2 separate regions of the Homo sapiens genome follow, and region 2 is linked to region 1. The links come from fine-mapping of genetic effects on gene expression. A gene starts in region 1. The other region holds a variant in brackets. All regions are shown on one strand. Distances are from middle to middle.

Region 1 (5,381 bases):
GATAGTTATGTATAATACAATTTTATTTTAATACACCTAAACGTTTGAATATTTGAAATCTTAATCACCTTTACAGCACAATGATTCTACAAAGCATTCTTTCCTTTAGCCTCACTGTATATTTTGTCAAATGACATGACTGTCCCTAATTCATAATTGGAACCTAAACCTAATGGAAAATACTACTTCATGTATGCAAAAATATTTGTGGGGTTTTTTTCTGCTATGTATAGCTGACATTGTTCTCAGGACTGGACTCTACTAGTTTTATTATGAAAATGTTAACATTTCTTCATAGAGTTGTTTTATAGAAACACCTGTTTTTCAGAAACATTCTGGGGAACAACCTGAAAACTTTTAAATAATATTTAGAGCATGGATTTATTTTAGGAATTACCTGATCCCTTTTTAAATGCATATTTCGACTTTCTTTAATCATGAAAAGTTTTCAACATTATTTTGTCATACCTGAAAGCTTTTAATTACTCTTAAAAACCCCAACTTTGCCATAGTAAATTATTTAATGCATCACAAAATAGTGTTATGAACTTGAACTAAAATGGCAAAATTGGGATTCTGTTTCTCCAGTTATGTACTTTGAGGGTCTTACTATGCCTTATGAAAATTCATTTTTCCCCACGTTGCAGATATGAAGAGCAAGGAGCGGGGGTGAGCAAGCAAGCAGATGCTGGGTAATCATGGAGCAGAAGTTAAAGGTGTGGATCGCCTTTTCATTAATTTTGTTTTTTAAGCCTTTCCCTCTTAGACTCTTCCCTTTCTTGGTAACACTGGAGTATCTACTGCTCCAGATCAGAAGACTTCGGACTAGGAAGATGAACTGGGCTATTTCAGCCAAAAAATATAATAGAGCAGACATTTGCCATGTTCTCCTCAAACACGTTAAGAGTAGCAATTGATTCTCACAGTACATTGTTACCTGGCTTGTTAATTATAATCATAGAACAAGAGTCTAAAATTCAAGGAAGCTGTCTGCGACACTTACTCGTCACAAACGCGATCAATTAAACGCTAATCTAACAGTACCTATTAGAGTGCACTGGGATGTTTCGTTTCCTTTTGGTCTTTAAAACCAAATGGCTACTAATTTCCTTTCTGTAGCACTGAGAACTTCTCTTTGTATTTCTTTGGGCCACCTCAAAAACACCTCCAGGTTGGTATCCCAGGAAAACAACGGTTAAGTTCAGGACGTTTACTGACCAATTGCTTCATATTGGAGATGTAGAGCTTTTCTACCCCTATTAGCATATCGCCAGTAGCAGTGATGCAGATCTGCTCAACCCGAAGCTGCCGACGGCGAGTACGAGCTGCAAACCAGCCCCCGCCCCCGCCCCTACTCTCCCAGTGGCGACACAGACGTGGAAACATCTACTAGTGGAGTGAGATCCTCTGTCTCCGCAATTGTAAACAACTGACTGCATCGGGTTCACTGAAATGTTTAAATACACTCCTGACTGCAAACACATCCACTCACCAAGTAGCGCTAACAATCTCCCCTTCTCCGCCTCTAGGCAAAGCATCCTGAAACTAAATTGGCAATCCTCCTGTTATGGAGTGGAAGAAAGTGAGGTTACATTTCCCCAAGCCTGCCTAGCGGGTGCTTGGCGCTCGCAGATATGCTGGCCGTTGCTGAATCTCGGGGACCAAGTCTCTGGATGAAATGCGGAAACACACAAACCCGCACATTGGAGCGCATGGTTAAAGTCAACACCGACGGCTCCTGGAGCACCGCCTGGGTTGTAATGACTATCTCTTTTGACAAAGATTGACAAAGGTATAGGGAGGACGCATCGGGTGGGGCCCTCGACGGCGGCGTAGGTTAGGAGGTCCTGCAGTTCCCCCGGGAACCCGGGCTCCCTGAGTGAGGCTCAAATAGAAATTCAGAAGCAAACAGGTACTAAAGTGCGTCCTAGCCCTTGGGCATATTCTCTGCGGAGACAGCAGGACCTGGACCCCAGTGGCAGAGCCCCAGGCGAACGCTCCAGGGTGGGAGGGATGCCAGAGAAGCGCCCCTTTCTTTCTTTTTAGACCGAGCCTCCCATCCTCACCCCAAGCACCCAGGTCCACTTGTTAGAGTGACTGGGCTCTGCGCGAGAGCCGAGGCGAGGAGGCTCCCTCTCAGAACTGAAGGAGTTGGTTGGTAAAAGTGCCGCCTGGGAAGCCCAGCGAGCCCTCGAAGGGCAGCGTCCCCAGGGCCCGCTGGAAGCTTGAACTGCGAACAAGGCCGACCTCCCTTCTGCCCCAGATGGTCCAGAGCCCCATGGCCGGCGGAGACCGGGAGAAGAAGGATGCGGAGGCTCTGCCACCTCGGGCAGGAGTCCCAGAGCGGACTCAACCGGCCGCTAACAGCCAGGAGCCGCCATCCGCCGCCTGCAGCCTCGGGGCGAAGTTCGCCTGTAGTCCTTGGGGTAGAAGGTTGGGGGTGGCGGGCGGGAGCGAGAAGGAATGGGGTGGGAGCCAGGAGAAACGCACCTACCTATTCCAAGCGCAAGTTTCGGCGGCGTCCCCAGGTGCTGTTCCCCCGCCCCCTCGCCAGGTGCTCGGCTCCGCCGGGCGCTGCCAGTGCCCGGGACTTAGGGCGTCTCGGCCGACTCCTGCGGGAAACGACTGTAAATCCACATTACTGTTCGAGCTGCCGCTCGGGCCCCCGCATTGCTCTCCTCCGGCTGCTGGCAGCGGTGCTCTAAACCGGCGGCCGCCGGAGGCAGGAACCGAACCTAGCTACTATTGCACCAGCGGACGACCGCTGCCAGAAGGGTGCTTGCGCCCAGGGTCCTATGTGTGTGCGAGAGAGTGTGAATACGTGTGTGTGTGTGAGTGAAAGAGAGTGTTCGTGTGTGAGAGAGCAGAAGGGGTGAGCTCAGCCCCCGGGGCACTCGGAGGTGAACTCCGGGCTGAGCCGAAGCTCGCCGCGCTCCCGGGTGCTGGGCGTCTGCTCGGCTGATGGCTGGGCTGATGTTGCCGTGGCCGCCGCCGCCGCGCTCTAAGGCTGGTCGCGGTGGTGCAAAAAATGTTTCTCCGCTACTCGAGACCAAAAAACCTGCCCTGTCTACTGAGCATGCCCGGTTTGACAGCTTCACAGCCGAGGTTTTTTTTTTTTTCTCCTTTTCCCCAAGACTCCAGGTTTTAGCCGCAGCTGAGATGGGAGGTGGAGGGAGGTGGGGGGAGGAGGAGAGGGAGAGGAGGAGGAGGAGAAAGAGGAGAAGGGCTTAAGGAGCAAGTATCGGGCAGAGGAAGGGAAGTCGCAATGAGAAAGATCAGGGTGTTATAGGGTGGAGAGGGGAAGGAGAAAGCTGGATATGGAAGCAGAGGAAGGAAATATGGATCAACAAAATTTAGATTTCCTACTACAGTGGATAGATGCCTGGCCAGGTGACTCACTCGATGTTTTTTTTTTTTTTTTTTTTTTAATTACTTTCTCCTGAGGGTGAGGGGTGGGGTGGGGGGTTCGGATGAGTATTTGTCAACCCCAGGATCAGCCTGGGACAGTGTTACCTAGTCATGACATACACAAACATCGCGTGCACACACACGCGCGCGCACACGAGCGCACACACAGGAGCACAATCACTGCTTCTATGTTCAAAGCCTCAGGACTGACTTAGAATGCGAAGTCTTTTGCCAGTATAACTTTGGCAAAAAAAAAAAAAAAAGGGCGGGGGGAGAGAAATTGTTTGGTTTCCTTTTCTTATTCTCCTCTCCCCCGCCTTCCAGAAAAGCCAAAAGCCCGTGAATGCGGTGCATAAGCGACCCACAAGCTCTCGTGCGTCTGTCGGTGAGAGTGCACCGCCGACTGCGTCCTGCTGACAGTGTGACCCCAGAGCGCCAAGGCCGGCCGGCCACATGCAGCCTACTGGCGGCGCATCAGATCAGCAGTAACGACGTCCACCTGAAGGTGGTTGGGGGAAGAGGGGAGCGCTAAGGGATCCTGCCCTGCCTGGCCGCCCAGGTTCCTGGGCTCCCTAAACGGCTCCGCCCCTCACCCAGCCTGGCACCAGGGCACGTACTCGGGCGAACCCAGCGCGCTGCCCCAAGCCCTGGATCCCTCCCTCCCTCCCAACCCTCCTCAGCTTCCTCGAAAAAGCGGAGAAGCGGAATCTGCACGCCCAGAAACTCGCGTCAGAAGCCTTAGTAGTCCGACTGGGCATGCTCGGGACTTGGGGCGCTTCGCATGGAGGCACTCTCCAGCGGCTAACATCTGTCCGACTGGGCCAGATGTGAGTCTGAAGTAGGAGGCTTGGATGCACGCTAGAGCAGGCTCTGGTTCCGGGAGGGGTGGCGGCGACGCCCACAGCAGTCTTCTTTCCGGCTTCCCACAGAGAGCAAGACCGTGGGAGATACCAAGTGCCGAGCCAGGGGAGCTGCACAAACTGGAGAAATAGGAGTCTAGCGGATTCCCAGGCCTCCTGCCCCGCGGTGCCACCCCAGCCGTAGGCAGGTAGGGGGCGCGCAGAGCAGCTAGGGAGCACCGCGTGTGCTCCCAAGGGACTGCTGACCTCTAGGTAAAGAAAAGAGAGCGTGAAGAGTCGAACATTCTTTGGGCGAAGGACGTTTACTGATTTTTTTTTTTTTAAGTAAAGAAAGAAGGGCGTGTGTGAATGCGTATATGTGCACGCACGTTTTAAATTTTCCTCCGCAAGAACAGGGACAGGAGAGCGAGAAGCTATTGCCGAGTTGGGAACCCGCTAGAGGTTACAATAAGGCAGGCTTGGAGTCGTGGCTGGTGCTAGTTACCGGGAAGAGTTCCTCTTGGCGCGGTGGGCGAACACCAAAGCTTCCAACTGTTCCCTTCCCTGGGTGGCGGCAGCTGCCCAAGGTCGGCTTCCGGGCTGGTCTCTGTGCTCCTGAGCAGGGGGACCAGATTCAGTTTCAGAAAGAGAGGTAGTACAGAGTGACGCCAGGGGGAGTTCTCTGAACCGTGTGTTCCCATTTTCCCAGCTTTTGATATAGGTATTTGCAAAGAGGGAGCATTGTAAGACCATCACACCACCAAGGGGAGGAAATACAAAGAGCTGAACACTCTAGGGGGAAGAATCAGGGAATCAAGAGCACGTTTATTCCCATCGTCCCTTCCCAACAAGGTCTTCAGCTTCAGGCAGGAATCATTTGGATCCCTGCGGCTCAACACCCTCCCACTCCCGTCCCGCCCCACCGCCCTGCCAACAAAGAAACAAAAGATGACAACCAGGCTCTGTAGGGGCATAGCAACTGCTTCTATCACCGGCTCTCTGTTGGGCTGTTGAGAAAGCAGTAGTGAAAGGATGGGTATAAAACCTGTGTCTTGCCACAAATATGTAAACGAAACCTTCCTAAAACCCACTACCCTCCTACAAAACAAAAACAAGTTATTTGTATAAACATAT
Region 2 (5,381 bases), 88 kb after region 1:
CTAATGCGTTTTCATATGAGAAAGATATGCACTTTAGGGGCCAGAGGTAAAATGCTATGGTCTGACTGTGTCTCCCAATGTTGATGTGTTGGAAACTCAATCCCCAGTGCAGTAGTTTTAGGAGGTAGGACATTCAAGAGGTAATTAGGTCATGAGGGAGTGGGTTTGTTATTGTGAGTGGGCAGTTATGAAAATGAGGTTGGCCCTCTCTTACTCTTTCACTCTTACCCTCCCACCTTCTGCCATGAGATGATGAAGGATGAAGGCCTTCACCAGATGTCAGTGTCATACTCTTGGACTTCCTAGTCTCCGGAACCATGAGCCAAATAAACTTCTTTCCATTATCTTTTTTTAAAGACAGCCTCACTGTTGCCCAGGCTGGAGTGCAGTGGCATGATCATAGCTCACTGCAGCTTTGAATTCCTGGGCTCAAACAATCCTTCCATCTCATCCTCCTGAGTAACTGAGACTATGGGCACACACCACCGTGCCTGGATAATTTATTTTATTTGTTATTTTTTTGTAGAGATGGGGTCTTGCTTTGCTTCTCAGGCTGGTCTCTCAAACTCCTGGTTTTAAGTGATCCCCTTGCCTTGGCCTTCTAAAGTGCTGGAATTTACAGGCATGAGTCACCATGCCTGGTATAAACTTATAATGTTTATAAATTACTCAGGATGTGGAATTATGTTATAGCAGTACAAAACGGAGCAAGACAAAACCAAAATGAGGGTCGATGCCTGTCATATTTCTCAAAGTCTATGCCATGCTCCTCAAAGCATTCATACAATAATTAAATGCTGGTAACATTTGTCTCTGTAGACAAATATTTTTGGTTTCTATTATTAGACAATAAGAACTATAAAATCCCATAATGTTTTCAATTTATGTTTGAGTCCAAGAAGATGAGCACTAAATTTAGGGCTCAATTGCAACTAAATCAACCTGAAACTCTTAGCAAAATTCAATTTTTACTAACAAATGGCATTTAATTTACATAGGCTTAGCTTTAATATTTAAATCAATTTATATAATTTTAATGAATGGTGATACTATCAATTAATAAAAATGAATTTAAAATAAGCAAAAATATACATCTTTTAATAATTTCAGATTTTTTTTTTTTTTTAACTTTAAGTACTGGGATACATGTGCGGAATGTGCCGGTTTGTTACATAGGTATACATATGCATGGTGATTTGCTGCACCCTATCAACCCATCATCTAGGTTTTAAGTAAAAATCATATGCAGATAAGAATGCAGAAAATATAATTAGAATTTGGAAGAATTATAAATGAAAATATAAATGTTTATTTTCAAGTGCTTTTGCTCATATTTAAAAATTCAGTATTTGGAATTTAAAGGTCTCTGCTTATTTTAGAGTTATTCCAAAATAACTGGGAATGTCATGGTTCTAGTAATTTTTTTTTAACTAGCAAGACAAATATGTCTAAAGAAGGATTAAGCTTGTTTGTTGATGTGGAATTGTCAGTAATGTGTTTAGGGTGGAAATGTATTTCAATTTTTTGGTGCCTTTCCTTGAAAACTATAGAGTCTTCAGAGGCGTTTTCCCTAAGGGTCATACCATGTAGCTATCTTAAAGGGAAAAGAACTTTATAAGTAAGTACTTCTGATGCCTAAGGAATTAGTACCCTCATACTAGTACCTTTTTATATGGTTTAATTTTCCATCTCACAGTAACCAGTTTTATGTCATATGGGGAACAAATGCAGGGTCATTCTTTCTTTTTAGATTTGAGACAATTATCTGTACTATTTAAGTAAAAAGTAAACTGTGTGCTCCAGAGTGGCTGTCAATATTGACTAAATTGACAGAGCAATTACTCAACTTTCTATTTCATTTGCCTTTGTACACATAGCCACAAATCAACTGGCTCAGTTAACTTACTCTGAGGAATTAATTTCCTTTGAAAACCTAACTTTTTAGCATGGTACAATTTAATAATAAAGTAGAAATATTTACAGTGGGCAAACTTTGAAAATAAGTATAAAATTAAATTTGGTACTCAGATACTTGATATAAATTATGGTTATATTCATTTCAACCATTGCAATGACTCAAGCAGATTTATTCATTCAACAAGCATTCATTGAGACCTAATATGTGCTTTTCACCGTGCTAGATCTGGGGACACAATATAAAATATCATGTGTCAGCCTTCAACAAATTCATAGTCCAGTGGGAAAATCAGACACAGAAAGAGATAATTATACAACAATATGGTAAGTGCAGTGATAAGGTTGTATAAAATAGTGTTTCAAGAAAATTAATGTAGTGGCACCA[T/C]GTAAAGTGCATTTGAGTTAAGAATATGACATTAGTAATATAAAGTAAGTATTATTACTATTCCTTTTTTATGTATAAGGAAACTTCAGAGGCTCAGAGAGATTCAGTCATAGTCTGGGATCACTGAGCTTACACATTCATGTGTTTATTCATTGATACATTCATTCATCAGAAACGATTCTGTAAGCCACGAACAGAGCAGTGATCAAAACAAACTGGATCCTTTCCTTATGGATCTTATAATAAATCCAAAAGTGCTCTGAGAATTCAGAGAAGAAGAAGATAATGCTACATATTTGAAATTTTAGAACGTGCAATTATACATTAAGAGGCAGAGCTAACAGGCTGGGCTCATCCCACTTGTCTGAAATGTAGTTCTTCTATGTTCTGCCAGCCAGGCTATGGAGTATGGAGTGGGCTTTCATGATGTTTATACATATATGGGCCTGCAGCATTTACTGAGTTATATTGTCTGAGTGGAATTTAAAATACATCATGGCTGTATAAACAATGTGATGAATAACATTAAAAAGTTAATTCTAATTAAAATCCCAGGGGTAACTAATTAGCATATGAAATGTCTTTATCTGAAGCAACACTTGGGGCTAATTAGCAGGTGAGGTATCTTAAATGAATACATCAACTTAGGGTTGGCCAATTTGCACAGGAATGTTAAAAATATTTTTTGATTGGAAAAAATAACAGTATTTTAGATATGTGATTGTCTGTGAATAGTGCAAGAGGACCAACCTCATTGGTATGAATAAGGTGTTGGAAATCTGCAAGGTGTTGGAAATCGGAAGTCTTGTGTCATAGGTACATTCCAGGACTGAAACTTATTGGTCTTGCATCTCCTTTTCACTGAAAATCTTACCCCTTGATAGGACGACAAGCTTCCACATTCTGCCATTTAGGTGAAAGAATGCAATTGCATTTGTTTTAGAGTAAACTTTTTATGCAAGGTGGACTTAAGGATAGAAAGAGGGGCCTCTTTTATCTATAAACAGGTTGTGAAGAAATGTGAGTACCTTTGTTGGAATTTGGTCTGAGGATTGTTTTCTCCTCATAGCCAGGTTTTTAGGGTTAAGGACAGATAGCCTCTATCTGTTTTTTAGTTACTGGTGAATACTAATTTTTATCAGAAAGACCTGACATTCACAGAATCACGAAAACAGGCTCAAGCCTGTTTGTTGTGGTGAAGAATTCATTGCCAACTGGGAACCAGAATCCACAATTCCCCAAATATCAAACTATCCATGATCAGAATGTTGGTGGTCAGTGGGAAGGAAGGAATTTATGTTCTTGAGGAAGAATAGTCAGCTAATGGTCGTATGGTTTCTATCCTCTAGAGAAAGTTAGAACAGAGCAACAATACTTTGCTTTTATTCCTGAATGCTTCACAAAGATGGTAAGGGTTCATTATTTCAATCAGCCAATACTTACTCTTTTCTTATTAGTCAACCTTGATTATATACTGAAATTGACTTTATAGGGACCCCGTCTTAGTCTATTTTGTGTTGCTGTAACAGAATACCTCAAATTAGGTATTTTTCTAATCAATGAAAATATTTTTAAAAACTTTTTATAGAGACATGGTCTCTCAATGTTGTCCAGGCTAGTCTTGGACTCCTGACATCAAGCCATCTTCACGTCTCAGCCTCCCAAAGTATTCAAATTACAGGCATGAGCTAACTCCACACAGCCATGTAATTTGTAAATGATAAAAGTGTATTTGACTCACGGTTCTGGAAGCTGGGGAGTCCAAGAGCATGGCACCAACATTTGGTGAGGGCCTTCCTGCTGCATCATCCCATGGTGGAAGGTGGAAGGGCAAGAGAGCATGAGAGCAAAACAGCAAGAGGGAGCTAAACTCGCTTTTGTTATAAGCCCCATCTAGAGATAAAAGAACTCATTTCTATGATAATAACATTCATCCATTTATGAGGGTGGAACCCTTATGACCTAATCACCTCTTATTAGTTCCTACCTCCCACCATTGTTACTTTGGGGATTAAGTTTCCAACATATGAAGTTTGGTGAACACATTCAAACCATACCAGACCTCTAACTTCTAACTGGTTGTAGATCTTGATGAAGACATTTCACAGCACTGCACTCAGTTTTGCTAGTGGTTTCCAAATTTCTCTCTCCTATCATTTGTTTTGCAATTTAACCTTTTCTTTTTACATCACAGTTCTGGAAGTTGTGTAACCCTAGACTCAGGCTAACAAGTAATTGAGTAATTGTGACACTGCTTTAACATACATAACCATTATTTCATTCAGGAAGTTACCTTTTCCTTCAGTCTATCTGAGGAAGTAGCCCTGGCTGCTCATTACTTCCTCCTTATGCTAGTCTCATCACTTTTTGGAGGATTTTATCAAAGAGATTATAAACAGACAAAACTTGATGACTGGTTGAATACTGGGAGTCATTTTGAAAGAGCAGTTAAATATAATGCCTAGGCTTCAAACCTAGGATTCCTGAAGTATATTAGTACCATTAATAAAAATGAAACTGAAAATAGGACCTGGCATAGCAGTCATCTAGAGTAAGTGAGACTGTATCTTATAGATATTATTTGCAAGTTATTGGACTAGAAGTGAGAACAAACTTCCTGCAAACATACTGCTTAATGAGTTCAAGAACTAAGGCTGTCAAGGTTAACATTACTTTACTATTTCAGGACATTATTGCCTAGGAAAATAAAGTTGCAACAAGGTTTTTATCTGAACAATAAGCTGATCAGTTAGCTGCCCTGCTCAAGGCAAGAAGTTACTCATCAGGGTAAATATCACCATTCTCAGGATGACAGATCACTCAATGTGCAAACTGCTTGCTTATCAAATGATTACTCATCAGGACACTTCAAAATTCTTGCTTTGCTGCATTCACCAATCTAAAAATCTGTGTTACAACTTTTTTTTCCGATTCCAGGCAGATCCCTTCTTTGAAAGACCTTCCTTAAGACAAATCCCAAAACTGTATGAAGATCTGCCCTTTCCCTTCCCCTTCCAAGACACTACTAAAAGTCTATCAAGGTGGTGTTTTCTCTTAATACAACACAGAATACATTCAA

Alleles and levels. Alleles are on the strand shown, and positions count from the first base shown. SD is a standard deviation of normalised expression in the study named.
With allele C in place of T in region 2, the expression in neutrophils of the gene that starts at base 3,003 in region 1 is lower (large effect, 0.75 SD a copy in CEDAR).

Evidence for each region. PIP is the estimated chance that this variant, and not a neighbour inherited with it, causes the effect.
Region 2: its variant is fine-mapped to the expression of TENM1 in neutrophils (CEDAR, PIP 0.95).

Annotation. Positions count from the first base shown.
Region 1 is chrX:125,201,310-125,206,690 of GRCh38, forward strand. It overlaps TENM1 (teneurin transmembrane protein 1), which reads right to left and starts at 3,003. Exons shown (of 35, transcript NM_001163278.2): 1 at 2,495-3,003. It overlaps LOC124905211 (a long non-coding RNA gene), which reads left to right and starts at 3,151. Exons shown (of 2, transcript XR_007068314.1): 1 at 3,151-3,390; 2 at 3,733-5,381.
Region 2 is chrX:125,289,495-125,294,875 of GRCh38, forward strand. No RefSeq gene overlaps it. Among named protein-coding and RNA genes, the nearest start is that of TEX13C, 28 kb to the right of the region's middle. The variant T/C (reference allele first, on the strand shown) is at 2,303.